2 separate regions of the Homo sapiens genome follow, and region 1 is linked to region 2. Evidence: fine-mapped expression QTL. Tissue or cell type: whole blood. Region 2 holds a variant in brackets; the other region holds the start of a gene. All regions are shown on one strand. Distances are from middle to middle.

What was found.
Region 1: RUFY3 starts here. The variant in region 2 is fine-mapped to the expression of RUFY3 in whole blood (TOPMed, PIP above 0.99).

What each region holds. Positions count from the first base shown.
Region 1 is chr4:70,718,482-70,726,893 of GRCh38, forward strand. RUFY3 (RUN and FYVE domain containing 3) reads left to right here and starts at 3,483. Exons shown (of 18, transcript NM_001037442.4): 1 at 3,483-4,270. The coding sequence starts at 4,093.
Region 2 is chr4:70,684,018-70,692,429 of GRCh38, forward strand. UTP3 (UTP3 small subunit processome component) reads left to right here and starts at 4,515. Exons shown (of 1, transcript NM_020368.3): 1 at 4,515-6,534. The coding sequence starts at 4,661. The coding sequence ends at 6,100. LOC101927297 (a long non-coding RNA gene) reads left to right here. Exons shown (of 4, transcript XR_938860.3): 4 at 2,590-2,799. RefSeq lists enhancers at 3,440-4,410, 3,791-3,880, 4,411-5,379, 4,581-4,640. The variant T/G (reference allele first, on the strand shown) is at 4,512.

The sequences.
Region 1 (8,412 bases), 34 kb after region 2:
TTTAGGGCCACAGACTGAACTCCCACCCGCCTCACAACCATCTTACAAATAGGTGCCATTACTCACAAATGGGATCAAATGAGAAAATAGTTCAATACAGCTCATACAGTAATTACTCTGTATGTGAGAAAAAAAATCAAGGTTTGAATATCTTACTGATGGCTTAACTTTAACTTCATATTCAAAGCTAAGATGTTTACTTAGTAAAGACCAAAATGTAAAAACGGTACTAAGCAATATCTAAAATCTTTTTTTTTTTTCTTTGAGACGGAGTTTCACAGGCTGGAGTGCAGTGGTGCAATCTCACCTCACTGCAACCCCCGCCTCCCAGGTTCAAGCGATTCTCCTGCCTCAGCCTCCAGAGTAGCAGATTACAGGCATGTGCCACCACGCCCAGCTAATTTTGTATTTTTAGTAAAGATGGCGTTTCTCCATGTTGGTCAGGCTGGTCTTGAACTCCCGACTTCAGGTGACCCGCCTGCCTCAGCCTCCCACAGTACTGGGATGACAGGCATGAGCCACCGTGCCCGGCCGTAGAATTGTTTTTATAAGTTTCTACAAATAGCACTGTTTTCATAGTAACTTCTTTGCCTGTGAACAATGGATAACTGTTCGTGCTGAAGACTCAATGGTGTTTACCTAAAGAACAGCGTAGAAGTACAGTTTTTCTTGCCCACCCCCGGGTCTTATTTCTGAAATGGCTGCCAACACCTCAAACTGGTAGATCTGGGAAATTCAAGGATACCAATACAGGCATGTTTTTCTTTCCTTGCCAAAAACTTTAGTTGTTTTGGGCTTGCCTCTCTGTGTCCTCTACCTGGAGAGAGGCAGGGTGGGATGGATCTTCCGAAGGAATGTTAATCAAGTTTCTTGCTCACTAACCTTGATGTTCCTGTTGTGTTGGTATGTTGCAATCAATCTAGATCTGTTCAAGTTAGTAAATGCTTACTGGGGTGAAGAGATTGTTGTGGTTTGTGACAAGGCCAAATTCAGGTTTTGGACCCCAGACAATCACATGGCATTCGGATTTATTCATGTATTCCTTGTTCTGTTTTAAGAACATATCAGTGATCTAGAGTTTTGATATCACACATACAGATAGCTAGGGCTGTTTGGAGTTGTGGTTCCAGGAATGTCCCATGTAATTTGAAGGTTTTAATGACTACTTACTATGTTTTGAAGTATTGCATGATATAAAGTGAATCTATAAACTGTCCCCTTATTAATATATAATATGGGAATATTTTTGGCTAGAAAGGAATTGAACTGAATTAAATGAGAATGTGTTAAATGAAGGCTTGTGTTCAGTATTTGGATATGAAAATTCTGTTTCCTGGAAAAGGTGTTTCTGTCTTACTGCTGCGTGCCTAGTGCCTGGATCACTACCTGGCATGTGGAGCACCTCTTAGTGAATATCTGTTGAATGAATGAATGAATGAATGGCTCTGAGTCTAGATGTAGGGTAATGATGAGAGAGAATGAGATAGAAATAAAACCAGGAGTATTTTGCTTTCCTTAGTAACTTACTGATTTTCCCCAATTATAAATAAGCCTATATATATGCCTTCTTACATTGTACCAGTATACCCTCCTTCTTTTTTTTATTTTGAGACAGGGTAGAGTGCAGTGGTATGATCTCGGCTCACTGCAGCCTCTGCCTCCTGGCCTCACGTGATTCTTCCACCTCAGTCTCCCAAGTAGCTAGGACCACATGTGCGCGCAACCATACCTTGCTAATTTTTGTTTTTGTAGAGATGGAGTTTTGCCATGTTGCCCAGGCTGGTTTCAAACTCCTGAGCTCAAGCCATTCACCTGCCTCAGCCTCCCAAAGTGCTGGGATTACAGGCACATGCCACCACATCTGACTAATTTTTGTATTTTTAGTAGAGATGAGGTTTCACCATGTTGGCCAGGCTGGTCTCGAACTCCTGACCTCAGGTGATTTGCCCGCCTTGGCCTCCCAAAGTGCTGGTATTATAGGCATGAGCCACCGCGCCCAGCCATCCGCCCTGTCTTCGTAACAATATGAAAATGCCAGTTTCTCTACAGAATTTGATTATTAGCATTTTTTTCTTTCAGTTCAGTCTCAAATTATGATGAAGCATTTGAGATTTTAACAATATTCAAGGAGAATTTTTTTAGTTTTCAGAAATTAGGTAAATCAAGATGTCCCTCTGATAACAATCCCTAGAAAGGAATAGTCTCAGGTCATATTTCTTGAATTTGTATGTTCCTCCTTAAAATTGGAACCCTTCAATACAAAAACAAACAAACACTTTCTTTCAATTGTCCAAAACATTTTCAAAGAAAATTCTTATTCTTCTCTTTGTAATTTATGTAGTTCATAAAGCAAGTACCTGCCCTTTTGCTACCAAGGTATAAATGCCTCATTGGATAATATAGGGCCGTGTGTGTGTGTGTGTGTGTGTGTGTGTGTGTGTGTGTGTGTGTGTATTAAGAAAATATAATTGTCTTCAGTATCTTATCGAATGGGAGGATTTTAAAAATATAACATGGTTTAATCTGCTTAGAAACATATTTCATGCTTAAGGCTGGGCATGGTGGCTCACGCCTGTAATCCCAGCACTTTGGGAGGCTGAGGTGGGAGGATCATGAGGTCAGAAGTTCAAGACCAGCCTGGCCAAGATGGTGAAACCCCGTCTCTACTAAAAATACAAAAATTAGCTGGGCGTGGTGGTGGGTGCCTGTAATCCCAGCTACTCGGGAGGCTGAGGCAGAGAATTGCTTGGACCTGGGAGCTGAGATCACGCCACTGCACTCCAGCCTGGGCTACAGAGCAAGACTCTGTCTCAAAAAAGAAAAAAGAAAAAAAAAGAAACGTATTTTATGCTTAATACAGAAACTTGATAAATACAACAAAATCAAAAAGGGGGGAAATTGCCATTAATTGGGAAAGATTTTACTTTTTTAACTTGAAGTTTTTTTTTTGCATTTCTGCCTAACCTAAAAGGTCAGGTTTTTGTACCTTGGAGAAGGAAATTATAAATGCCCAAGAATAAGATATTTAAATTGAAAATCTACTTTAGCTTTTCTTTTTATCTTTTTGTTTTTTTTCCCTCTGAGAACCTCAATTTTTTATGCTTTAGCTTTTCTTAAAACATAACATTTAGCATAGTAAAGAATTTTAATAGCTATGTAGATAAGAATGAAAGAGGTGAATTATATGCTTGTTAAATTAATCTAACTGCCTCTTTTACCATCTTTACTATAGATTATTATCCGGTATTAATTGTCATCCTTTTATTCAGTCCTTGATCCCAAAGTAAGAAGAATTGATGAGGATATGTGCATTGTGTTATGTCTGATCACAGTTTGACTAGCACAGTCTGGAAGTGGGTTGTACAGGATGAGAGAGAGAAGCCTAATTGCTCTCCCAGCATCAGCAGCATCTATAAAGCATCCTGGGAATTGCTTGCCCTACGTTCAGAGCAGCTGGTCACATGAGCCTGAATTTTCAGTTCAGTTCATTAGTCAGCCATTTTGGTCAACACCCTGCTTACTGCGCACGGCCAATCCTATGAGAACTCAGCATCCCAGCTCATCTGAGCAGATCCTGGAAGTGATTTCTGCAGCTCAGGATTTTTTTTTTAAGCTACATTGAAAATATAGGTTTATTTTTTGTTCAGGTTTTTCTTTTATATTTTTTTTCTGCACAAAGGAGGAGGATTTTTCACTTACTCATATCGAGGCCAGATTTTTAAAGCCAGCTAAGGCAGCATCAGCTGTGCGGGATTTAAAGCCTATAGCTCAGCTGAAAAAAAAGGTGGGGGGCAGGGAAGGGAAGATAAAAGGAGAGGAAGCTGGGAGAAGACAAGCATCATCTTATTTTGCTATGTGGTAGGAACTGTCTATAAGATAGTGTAGAATTGTTTATCTTGAGCAGTTTGTTCTTAACCTATAAGGTATTTTTCCTTTTTTTTTTTTTTAAACCTCCCCCACCCTTTTCCTGAAAGCTTTGTTTCAGAGCTTTGTATTGGGTTTTTTTGGTGAGGAGGTTGTATTTATTTTTTTGGTGTGTGTGTGTGAGTGTGTGTGTGTCTGTGTGTGTGTTGTGGTCCCAGCTGAGTCATCATGTCTGCTCTGACGCCTCCGACCGATATGCCAACCCCCACCACTGACAAGATCACACAGGCTGCCATGGAGACCATCTACCTTTGCAAATTCCGAGTGTCCATGGATGGAGAATGGCTCTGCCTGCGAGAGCTGGATGACATCTCACTTACACCTGACCCAGAGCCTACCCATGAAGGTATGGTCAGATCCTGTCCGCTAGTATTTCACCAGCATCCTCATTGTTATGGGGGAGGGCTGGGAGGATCAGGGAGAGGTAGAAAGAACCTACACTCTCAACTGTTAACAGTCCTGAAAACCTTGCATCCTTACTTACCACCCAGCTCCCCTTCTCTTGCTCATGGGGGAAAGATAATTTTTTTTCTTGCCCCTTTAGGTATCCTTTCAAAAGATGCTGGATACTCGTTTAGAGTTCTTTGTCTTTAAGCCTCTAAATAAAACATTTGAGGTCACTTATCACATCTGATTCTATTCAATAATGAGAAAGCTATTAATTTTGTTCATATATGAAAATGTTATAGAAATTGTAGTGATTTATAACACTAAGTTAAGACAACATGACTATAATTATAGGATTGTACATGATGAATACAGTAGAAACACCAGGGTATTTGGTAATGGTATCCTCACCATTATATGAGGATACAATTTTAAGCAAGTTATGACATCTAGGAAATGTTTGATAAAACATTTTTTTAACAATATGGATTATTAGGTTAGATGAGAAAATAACTTTTCAGCATTTATTTATTGAATATGGACTCCTAAGAAAGCATAATGCCTGGAAAGGTTAAATATGATTAATATGGCATCCCTATAGATTACAATAGAATGGTAATATTGGAATCTATTGGCCATTGCTTTTTATAAATTATTTGTGGTAACTATTATGATCCATTTGAGATTTCCACTGTCAGTACCTCTGAGATCTTTGTGGTCTCTTGACTTGCGACTTTTTTCCAGGACTCTTGCTAATTTATGAGAGGTTTTCTGCTTCTACCCTTTAATTCTCTTAATACCACAGAAAGAGAGCTGATTTGAATCATAGCTACAAATCGTTTTGTTTTTAATACAGTTGCTTCTTAGCTAAGGTTTATTCTCTGTCCTTATACTGATGAAAAAAAACAAAAAACGCTTGCATATGAGGAGAAATTCTTTATAAACATCTGCCTGATAGTTAGGCACATCGACAGGACAAAGAAGACCATAGGTGAATTGTACCTAGCAGATGGGGTTAGGAAAGGTGATTCTCTGCCTTTGACCTTGAGTTGAAATCTTATCATGACTCAGAATTTTCCCATTGTGTTTGATAAGCATTTTATCTTCCCAGTCAGCCTTAGCCTTGAGAAAGTTTTAGGGATGGTTAATAACACAGAACACAAAGCAGTCATTTTGGGTGTGTCTTTAAGAACAATGTTTAAGTGGTTTTTAAGACCCTTTGCATCTTTTAACAATTGGTTTGTTAATTAGACAGCTTTCTTTGGCTGTATGTTTCGTTATGTGCACAAGTTATAAGACATCAGCTGAAATTCCATGCAATGCCAGTACTATTTATTTTTTATTATTATTTTATTCTATATTTTCATCAAAACATCGTTACATCCAACAATTCCAGTACTACTTAAAACAGCCTCCAAAGCTTTAAAAGTCTTTAGGGAAGAAAAATACAGTTTTAGAAGGCTACCAAGAAGTCTTCTGGCAACTGCCTCAGTTTACATATTTTGTTTGAAAAAAATGTATTCCCGTCCAATTTGAGAGTTATACAATATGAAATATTCCCTTTATCATGAAATCTAGTTTACCAGTGTCTCAAAAATAATTTTTAACAATTTTAACACCTCAAATATATGTTTTTGGAGCAGGATTCCTATGGATAAGCAAAAGTGAGCTGTTTGGTTCATGTAAGCGTTTTTAGCAGCGCCATTTGAATTCTTCATAGAGAAATCTGTAGCAACACATTTCTCAGTATGGAAAATGTGTGAGAGCTATAATCTAAGTAATAAATTGTATGTCTGCTGATTAAAGAAATCAGATAAATACAGAGTTTCCAAGACCTGTAATCAACTATAGAGGATTTGGAAGAAAATAGAGAAATGCCGACAGTGCATTTTAGAATTTTGCCTTAAATTGGGCAAGAAAGCTATTATTTTAAATTACTAGAAATGAAAATAAAGAAAGCATAGTCCCATGAAAGCCTGTGAGTATTACTGCCTTGCTCCATTACCAAACTCTGGATATTTAAACAGTCATTTGGTCCCAAGAAATACCCACTTTTATGTTAATACCACTGATAGTTATTAGATTTAATTTAGCTATAAGCATTTAAGTGGTGGTCACCAGGCCCATGATTATGTGAATCTCACCTTGTTCACAAAATGGAACTCCTGATGTCTGGACGCGGGAGTATTCAGACTGCTTTCCGGGCTGATTCACAGAGGGAAAAACATCTGACCACCCAAATCCTAGAGTGAAGTCTCCTCACTCCCACAAAAGAAAATAGGCAAACAGCATAATGTTCCCTCTTAAAATGATGTAGACTGACTGTGTGTACTCAGCAATAGAGGCTCTGTGGCTTCCATATTTTATTTTCTTAAAACCAGAGTTCCTGGCCCTTCACTGAGCAGTCCGCAGTATAGGCCTGGACCTAGAGTTTCTGCCTACTTTAACCCTTAAATAAATGAAAATAAAAGCATTCACTTCATTATCTCAATGCTTATTGGTGGTCAATGAGGGATTATCTCTCTTTTGTCTTATATACTCTTTTTTTTTTTTTTGAGACAGAGTTTTGTTCTTATTGCCCAGGCTGGAGTGCAATGGCGCAATCTTGGCTCACTGAAAACTCTGCCTACCGGGTTCAAGCGATTCTCCTGCCTCAGCCTCCCAAATAGCTGGGATTACAGGCATGCGCCACCACACCCAGCTAATTTTTGTATTTTTAGTAGAGACGGGGTTTTTGCATGTTGATCAGGCTGGTCTCGAACTCCCAACCTCAGGTGATACACCCTCCTTGACCTCCCAAAGTGCTGGGATTACAGGTGTGAGCCACCATGCCCGGCTTATATACTCTTATTTTCAAAAGCCAACAGCAAATCTACAACAAGTTTAATTGCAAATAGATTTCCCCTAAAGGCAAGAGCCTGTGATTGACTCCACAGGAGAAGGGTCAGGAGAGGCTTCATTAAGTGAGACCTTAAGAGATAAACAGGTGATCACCAGACCGACATAGGGAGGGCATTTCAAACAGTACACAGTGAGCTGGCCCAGCCAGGGAATAGCAACAGGAGCACAGAGGGCTTCTGTTTGGCACAACAGGGAGCAAGACTGGAAAGATAAGCAGGGGCTTGACTGTAGAAATCTTATTCATACTGAAAAGCCTGCACTTGATTCTGTAGTGAAAAGCTACTGGTGCTTTATGTCTGGGAGTAACATAAAATAAGATTTGTGTTTGGAATGATCACTCTGGCAACAGTGTAGTGAATGGATCAGAAGGATATAAGCTCTCAGGGACCCCTAACTATAACTTTTAAAATGGTCTGGGTAAGAGATGACAATCTCACATTAAGGTAGCAAGAGTGAACACCAAAGGAACAATCCCTGGAAAAGCAGAATGTACCCGATGACTGAGGGGCTGGGTGGCTGGAGAATGAACATAAGGCAGTGCCTGGGATGACTCTCCAACTTCTGGCTGCAGAAGCTAGGTTCCCTTTACCAGTAGGGAATATAGAAGGAAGAGAACATTTGAGTTGTTGATGCTTAATAGATTGTGACTAACAAAAGCACTACCATCACTCTTTTTTTTCTTTTTTTTGAGACAGTTTCGCTCTTATTGCCCAGGCTGGAGTGCAATGGCGCTATCTCAGTTCACTGCAACCTCCACCTCCCAGGTTCAAGCAATTCTCCTTAACTCAGACTCTCCAGACTCCCCAAGTAGCTGGGATTACAGGCATGCGCCACCACGCCCAGCTAATTTTGTATTTTTAGCAGAGACAGGGTTTCTCCATGTTGGTCAGGCTGGTCTCGAACTCCCGACCTCAGGTGATCGCCCGCCTCAGCTTCCCAGAGTGCTGGGATTACAGGCGTGAGCCACCGTGCCCCGCCCATTACTCTTTCAGTTGAGCCTTCTACCCGCCCCACAGAAGCATTAATCAGATTTATACTTTTCCAGATTACATATCCTGGCTTAAGTCTGTACCCTAATTTACATTAAGAGTTGGAATCCTCACATGGAAAGGCGGGGGTGAAGATAAAAGGAGTGAGACTTAAATGGACATTCAGAGATGTGAGAATGTGGCTTACTTTCTTACTTTGCTTGTGCCATGT
Region 2 (8,412 bases):
TGATATAGTCATTTTTTGTTTGCTCATTTGTTTTTTAATTAAATCTCAGGTGCAGTTAATTATTCTCCTCAGTTCCTGACATTATTATTGGTCTGTGGAAATGTCCTCTTCTATTCCTTTTAATCTCCAACCCTTATCCCATTCTTCATCTTCCACAAACAGCTATTCTTTTGTGTTTAATGTATATTATTTTGTTTGATTATATTCCTACAAAATGTGTATTGTTACATTATTGTGCCTGCATTTTTAATTTTTGTGAATGGTATATTATTTATTACATTCTATTTTTTACTTTTTTCCCTTAGCACATTGTTTTAAAAATCCATTCATGTTGCCATATGGATATATAATCTACTGCTTCCAATTACTATATAGTTAAAATCACTATAAAATGTATCATCTTAGCCAGGCATGGTGGCTCAAGCCTGTAATCCCAGCACTTTGGGAGGACAAGGGGTGGATCACCTGAGGTCAGTAGTTCGAGACCAGCCTGGCCAACATGGTGAAACCCCGTCTCTACTAAAAATACAAAAATCAGCCAGGCGTGGTGGCAGGCACCTGTAATACCAGCTACTCGGGAGGCTGAGGTGGGAGAATTTCTTGACTCTGGGAGGCGGAGGTTGCAGTGAGCTGAGATCGCACCATTGCACTCCAGCCTGGGTGACAACAGTGAAACTCTGTCTCAAAAAAAAAAATTATCATCTTAATCATGAGAGTGAAAGGAGGTGCTATTAATAATTACACTGGGATAACAGGTTAAACAGGGCCATCCAGGGCAAGCCAGAATGTATGATCACCCTATGCTCCTAAATTCCATGCTGTTCTTCCACAACATTTTATTGATCTGCTCTTCCAGTGACGGATATCCAGGTTGTCTCTAACTCGCTGCTACCAAAAATAACTTTTCAAATAGCTTCGCACAGGTCCCCTTATGGATGGGCTTATGTGAGAATTTCTTAACCAAAAAGATATCTGCAATGATTTATAAATTTCTGATACAGGTAATTCTGAACACCCAGAAGATTGGTAAAGTGACAAATGAGAATAAAGCATAGTAGAGTACTTAGCTTAGCATTGAAGGTTTTTGTAGTAATGAAAGGTATGACTGGAAAGGTTGTTTTGGGGTAAAACTTTAGGACAGCCATGTATGCTGTAAATTTTGTTAGTAAACGAAAGTTTTTACTATCTGGATAGTAAATGAAAGTTTCTGAACCAGGATATGCGGTGACAGAAATGATATTCTAGGAAGATATATCTGATGTACCAGATCAAATGTACCAGAGACTAAAAGGAGGAGACCTATTAAAGGAAAAGTTGAAAGCCAGTATAGTATAGTAGTTAGTTATAGCACAACATGGATTCTGAAGCTGGACTGTTCTAGTTTAAATCTAGTTCTAACACTTATTAGCTTTATGACCTCACTTAAGCTATATGCGCCTAATTTTCTCATCTCCAATTACAGATTATTATAGTAACTTTTCACAGGGTTATAATGGTTTCAAGAGCTTGTAATGGTATCTAGCACACAATAACCACTCTCAATGTTAGCTATTATTAATTATAATTGTTTCAATAGTCCAGGAAGAAATAAAGATTAGTTTAAGCTAATGTGATCATACAATACCTCCAACACCCAGAATAAATGCCCTGAAAGAAGTATCCTAATGTATCATCACCTAATGTGTCATTCATAGACTCCCTAATTTCCATAGTAAGAAAATCCCATAAAGGGCTTAGAGTAAGGCAAAAACAATTTTTTTTTAACCTGCTGGCTCTCATTAGTGTAACTTGCTAACTCCTGAGCCAGACATCACAATAAAATAAAGATTCAGATTGGCTGGGTGCGATGGCTCACACCTGCAATCCCAGCACTTTGGGAGGCTGAGGTGGGCAGATCACCTGAGGTCAGGAGTTTGAGACCAGCCTGGCTAACATGGTGAAACCCCATCTCTACTAAAAAAAAAAAAAAAAAAAACACACAAAAAAATTACCCAGGTGTGGTGGCAGGTGCCTGTAATCCCAGCTACGTGGGAGGCTGAGGCAGGAGAATCAATTGTTCTTTATCAAAAGGATCTGAAAAACTGGGTGAAGCGGCACGCACCTTTAGTCCCAGCTACTCAGGAGGCTGAGGCAGGAGATCACTTAAGCCCAGGAGTTCTACCCAGCCTGGGGAACACAGCAGGCACCTGTCTCTAAAAACAAAGGATCTGAGAATGTTAGAATACGATACTCTCTGAATATGCATTGAATACTGCAACTCTGTTCTGGTTAGGAAATTTAACATTTAGTATAAACTAAATAATATTAATGTGATCATTCCCATTTAAAATATCCAAAATATTTTTCTAACTTATATATAATAGTATATGCATTTTAGTCTTGAAGTCTGACACTAAATTCTCAAATAATTTGCAATAAAAATGAAAAATTTTTATTTATGTGCCTAAATGCAACAGTGTTTAAATAATGAAAATTTAACATTTAAAGTAAGGAAATAACTACAATTCCAGCATAGATGTCATATTCTTTAAGCAATATTCCCAAAACAGCAATCTAAAGGTTATCTCTTATCCTTCTGTTCTCTTACAGCACCGGGTTTACATCATACACTGCCTTGTATTCCAGTAATCTGTATGAGTGTCTTCTTTTCTACCTGATTATACAGTCCTTAACTGGCTGATTCATCACTATTGTCTGTAGCATTCTACAACAAACAGTAAGCAGTTAATATCTGCTAAATGACAAAATGTACTAAAATTTACATTAAAAAATAAATTCATGCTTACCATCAGAACATAACTTTTGCCCACAACTTTCTAATTTAATTTTATTTTCTAAAATCTTGTAAAAATTTCAAAATGTTTCGGACACCTTTAGGCACTTGGAAAATGTTTATTTCAAAGTATCACTTTTCTAACATTTTGCATTATTTTTATTAACCTAATGACACTATACTTTCTGAAAAGAAATTGTCACCATTGGCTGGGCGCGGTGACTCACGCCTGTAATCAATCCCAGCACTTTGGGAGGCCGAGGCGGGCGTATCACGAGGTCAGGAGATGGAGACCATCCTGGCCAACATGATGAAACCCCGTCTCTACTAAAAATACAAAAATTAGCTGGGAGTGGTGGCGCGTGCCTGTAATGCCAGCTACTCGGGAGGCTGAGGGAGGAGAATCACTTGAACCAGGGGGTCGGAGGTTGCAGTGGGCCGAGATTGCCACTGCACTCCAGCCTGGCAACAGAGCGAGCCTCCGTCTCAAAAAAAAAAAAAGAAAAAAAGAAAAAGAAAAAAGAAACAAAAAACAAAAGAAAAAGAAATTGTCACCATTAATTTTATTTTATTTATTTATTTATTTATTTTGAGACAGAGTCTCTGTCTGTCGCCCAGGCTAGAGTGCAGTGGTGCGATATCGGCTTACTGCCACCTCCGCCTCCCGGGTTCAAGTGATTCTCCTGCCTCAACCTCCCGAGTAGCTGGGATTACAGGTACCCGCCACCACGCCCCGCTAATTTTTTGTATTTGTAGTAGAGACTGGGTTTCCCCATGTTGGCCAGGCTGGTTTTGCACTCCTGACCTCAAGTGATCCACCCACTTCGGCCTCCCAAAGTGCTTAGGATTATGGGCATGAGCCACCGCGCCCAGCCATGTCACCATTAATTTTAGCAACGTATCAAAAGTTCAGCTTCCAACTACCTACATTAAAAGGTATAATAATACTAACCCTGAACCTTACATATGTAATGCCTAAAAACTTACACCCTGAATTACTCTAACATTACAGGGCAGACTTCCTTGAGAAGAGTCAGACCCTGCAGCGGGGCTCTGCCTTCCCACTGTCAGCCTCGGGGTCATCTAGCTTTATCGATCCCCATGGAGCGGGTCACCGAGCCCTGTGAGCAGGGAGAGGGCGATGGGGATGAGTAAACCCGAGCCGGAGGCCCGGCCTGCGCTCTCGCCCGGAAACCTCCCGTGGGATTCTGGAGTCCAGCGGCGCTGCCTGAGGCTGTGGTACCCAGAAATATGGTATTGGGGGTGGGGGTGAAATGAGAGGAAAGCAATCTGATTAACTTCCAGCCTGATAAGCAGAAAAGAGAAAACAAGGGAGCAGGAAAACTACGCTAGCACTAGACTGCCGGTCGCAAGCGCCGGGTACACACGCAGTTAAACCTCAATGGAACGCCCCCGGGACTTCTCCGGGGCGTAAAGCGCAGCGCCCTCTATTGGCCATCGGGACCTCGCCTGGAGGTGCCGTCAGGATTCCGTCCCCCAGCCACTCCCAGGCACTCGAGAGTAAGCGCATTAGCCCGAGAAAGCGTTCTGTGGAACGGAACTTCCTTATCCTATCGTTTCCACACGGAAAGATTTTAATTCACCGGAATCGACTGGCGTTAAAGGGCACAGTGAAAAGGAAGTTGGTATCAACGTGATCTCGACTAAGGGACCGAGCGGAAGTCCTCAATCGTACGCCACGCGGAGAGCATGCTGGGGGCCGGAAGGAAGAGGAAAT[T/G]CCAGTAGCCGATCAGGAGTCTGCAAACTCCGGTGGTAGGGGAGCGCGCTGCTGTTTAGAGCCACGAGTTACCGGAGCGCCTGATTCCTGCGCCGAAGTCAGTGGTGGCCGAAAGTCCGGAGTCGCTGTAAAACCTGAGATTGTGAGCCATGGTGGGGAGATCCCGGCGGCGCGGAGCAGCTAAGTGGGCAGCTGTGCGAGCCAAGGCAGGTCCCACGCTCACCGACGAAAATGGAGATGATTTAGGATTGCCACCCTCACCAGGGGACACCAGCTACTACCAAGATCAGGTAGATGACTTTCATGAGGCACGATCCCGGGCCGCCTTAGCTAAGGGCTGGAATGAAGTACAGAGTGGAGACGAGGAGGATGGCGAGGAGGAGGAGGAGGAGGTGCTAGCCCTAGATATGGACGATGAGGACGACGAAGATGGAGGGAATGCGGGGGAGGAGGAGGAGGAGGAGAATGCCGATGATGATGGTGGGAGCTCCGTGCAAAGTGAAGCTGAGGCCTCTGTGGATCCCAGTTTGTCGTGGGGTCAGAGGAAAAAACTTTACTATGACACGGACTATGGTTCCAAGTCCCGAGGCCGGCAGAGTCAACAGGAGGCAGAGGAGGAGGAAAGAGAGGAGGAGGAGGAGGCACAGATCATTCAGCGGCGCCTAGCCCAAGCGCTGCAAGAGGATGATTTTGGTGTCGCCTGGGTTGAGGCCTTTGCAAAACCAGTGCCTCAGGTAGATGAGGCTGAGACACGGGTCGTGAAGGATTTGGCTAAAGTTTCAGTGAAAGAGAAGCTGAAAATGTTGCGAAAGGAATCACCAGAACTCTTGGAGCTGATAGAAGACCTGAAAGTCAAGTTGACAGAGGTTAAGGATGAGCTGGAGCCATTGTTAGAGTTGGTGGAACAAGGGATCATTCCACCCGGAAAAGGAAGCCAATACTTGAGGACCAAGTACAACCTCTACTTGAATTATTGCTCGAACATCAGTTTTTATTTGATCCTGAAAGCTAGGAGAGTCCCAGCACATGGACATCCTGTCATAGAAAGGCTTGTTACCTACCGAAATTTGATCAACAAGCTGTCCGTTGTGGATCAGAAGCTGTCCTCAGAAATTCGTCATCTGTTGACACTTAAGGATGATGCTGTAAAGAAAGAACTGATTCCAAAAGCAAAATCCACCAAGCCCAAACCAAAGTCTGTTTCAAAGACTTCTGCTGCTGCCTGTGCTGTTACAGATCTTTCTGATGATTCTGATTTTGATGAAAAAGCAAAACTGAAGTACTATAAAGAAATAGAAGACAGGCAAAAGCTAAAGAGAAAGAAAGAAGAAAATAGCACTGAAGAACAGGCTCTTGAAGATCAAAATGCAAAGAGAGCTATTACCTATCAAATTGCTAAAAATAGGGGACTTACTCCTAGGAGAAAGAAGATTGATCGCAATCCCAGAGTGAAACACAGAGAGAAGTTCAGAAGAGCCAAAATTAGAAGAAGAGGCCAGGTTCGTGAAGTTCGTAAAGAAGAGCAACGTTATAGTGGTGAATTATCTGGCATTCGTGCAGGAGTTAAAAAGAGCATTAAGCTTAAATGAAGTTTTTGCTTAGCATAAGGTTTTTGGCAGTTTTGGATCAATAAATTTTTACTTTTAACTAAAGTCATTGTATTAATATATAATACTTTAAATTTTAAAAATTCTTGTCCACAAGGAAATTTGTCTGGGTTATTGGACAATTTATAAGAACTATGGGAGCAATATGAAGGTGCTTGAGAAAAGAGATGATGTTGAAGTTTTCCAATATTCTGTTGAAGTTTTCCAATATTAAGTATTAGCTTAGGGAAATTTCACAGTTCATTGTGGAGTGTTAAACTTAGAACATGTGTAACTTTTCACATAAAGAGAATGCATCTTTGACAGTTATCTTATTTGTAAGGCAGCCTATAAAATAGTTCTGAAGTATTTTATTTACCTAACTATAATTATTGGGCCAGATACTTGTTAATAAATGGGCTTAATGTTAACATGGATTTCATATGTTCTGTGTGGTTTAAAAGCATAGGAATGAAACTTTGGTTAAAAGCAGAAAAAGGAAAAGATATGCCTTAATTACATCAATTGTCAATATTTTCTCATAGTTCTTCATGTGGCAAATAAGGTAAAAATCCCATTTCCCCTTCTTTACTGGTGATTTGCAGTGGTTGCTGCTTGTACTTGCACTCCATTTGCTAAAACTTTGATATGATTACTACCAGGTAAGTGGTAACTTTAAGTGGCAACAAAGTTCCATTTTTCTTTTTTTTTTTTTTCGAGATTGAAGTCTCACTCTGTAGCCCAGGCTGGAGTGCAGTGGCAGGATCTCTCAGCTCACTGCAACCTCCACCTCCCGGGTTCAAGCGATTCTCCTGCCTCAGCCTCCTGAGTAGCTGGGATTACAGGTGCTTGCCACCACGCCCAGCTAATTTTTGTATTGCTAGTTGAGACAGGGTTTCACCATTTTGGCCAGGCTGGTCTCGACCTCCTGACCTCAAGTGATCTGCCCGCCTCGGCCTCCCAAAGTGCTGGGATTACAAGTGTGAGCCACCACGCCCAGCTCAATGTTCCATTTTTCTTTTCTTTTTTTTTTTTAATTATACTTTAAGTTTTAGGGTACATGTGCCCAACGTGCAGGTTAGCTACATATATATACATGTGCCATGTTGGTGTGCTGCACCCCGTAACTCGTCATTTAACATTAGCCATTTTTCTTTGCTGCTACACTGGTCTTTAAATAGGGGGAAGATGTTGAGGTGGTAAATGTAAAAATAGGATGTTGCCAGGGAAGAAAATGAGAGGACTAGTGAAGGAAACCACAAAAAAAAGTCCTAATTTCCTAATTGTGTCACTGTTTATTCAGTAAACACTGTGCTAGCTGCTAGAGATGCAGAGATGACGCTTGGTTAATATTTATGGAACACTTGCCATGTGCTAGTTGTACATCACCTCATTTAATCTTTACAATAACTTTGCAAGGTGATACTGTGCTCCACAGATGAGGATGCTGAAATTTTGGAAGGTTGACTTTCTAAAGGACATCTGCTTGAAATCTGAACCCAAACCAACTTGAGCATTCATTCTCTTAACCTCTGGCTTACAGCTGCTTCCTCAGAGTAGCACACAGGACAAATTATTTTGTTTCCTTATAAATAAAAGAGGTAGGTTGGAAATAGAAATAACAGTGCTTACTAAGGTAACTTTCCGAGCACTTTGTGCTTATTTCCTTATTTCTCATAACCTTATGTGGTAAATTCTGTTATCCATATTTTGAAAATAAGGAAACTGGCAAAGAGAAGTAACTTTCTCAGGGTCACACAGCTATTAAGTGGCAGAGCCAGGATTTCAACCCAGCCTTTATGGCTTCAGAACCCAATTCTATACTTCCTTTTTTTTTTTTTTTTTGATATAATAGAAAAAATACAGGTTTTGGAGTTAACAGGATGATTTTCAGTTAATCTCTGAGTTTCATTTTCTTCATCTGTATGAGTCTCTGTTATTATACCTACCTCAGAGAAGCCATAAGTCAGTGGTTAAGAACAGACTGTAGTTAGACTGCCGGGTTGGATCTTTTGCAGGGGGTTTGTTTGTTTTTTGTTTTTTGTTTTTTTTTTTGAGACAGAGTCTCAGTCTGTCGCCCAGGCTTGAGTGCAGTGGTGTGATCTCAGCTCACTGCAACCTCAACCTCCTAGGTTCAAGCAATTCTGCCTCTCAGCCTGCGGAGTAGCTGAGACTACAGTCCCAGTCGAACTCCTGGCCTCAAGCGATCCACCCGCTCCTGGCCATTTTTTGGTGTTTTTTTTGTTTGTTTGTTTGTTTGTTTTTGAGATGGAGCCTTTCTCTGTCACCCAGGCTAGAGTGCAGTGGCACAATCT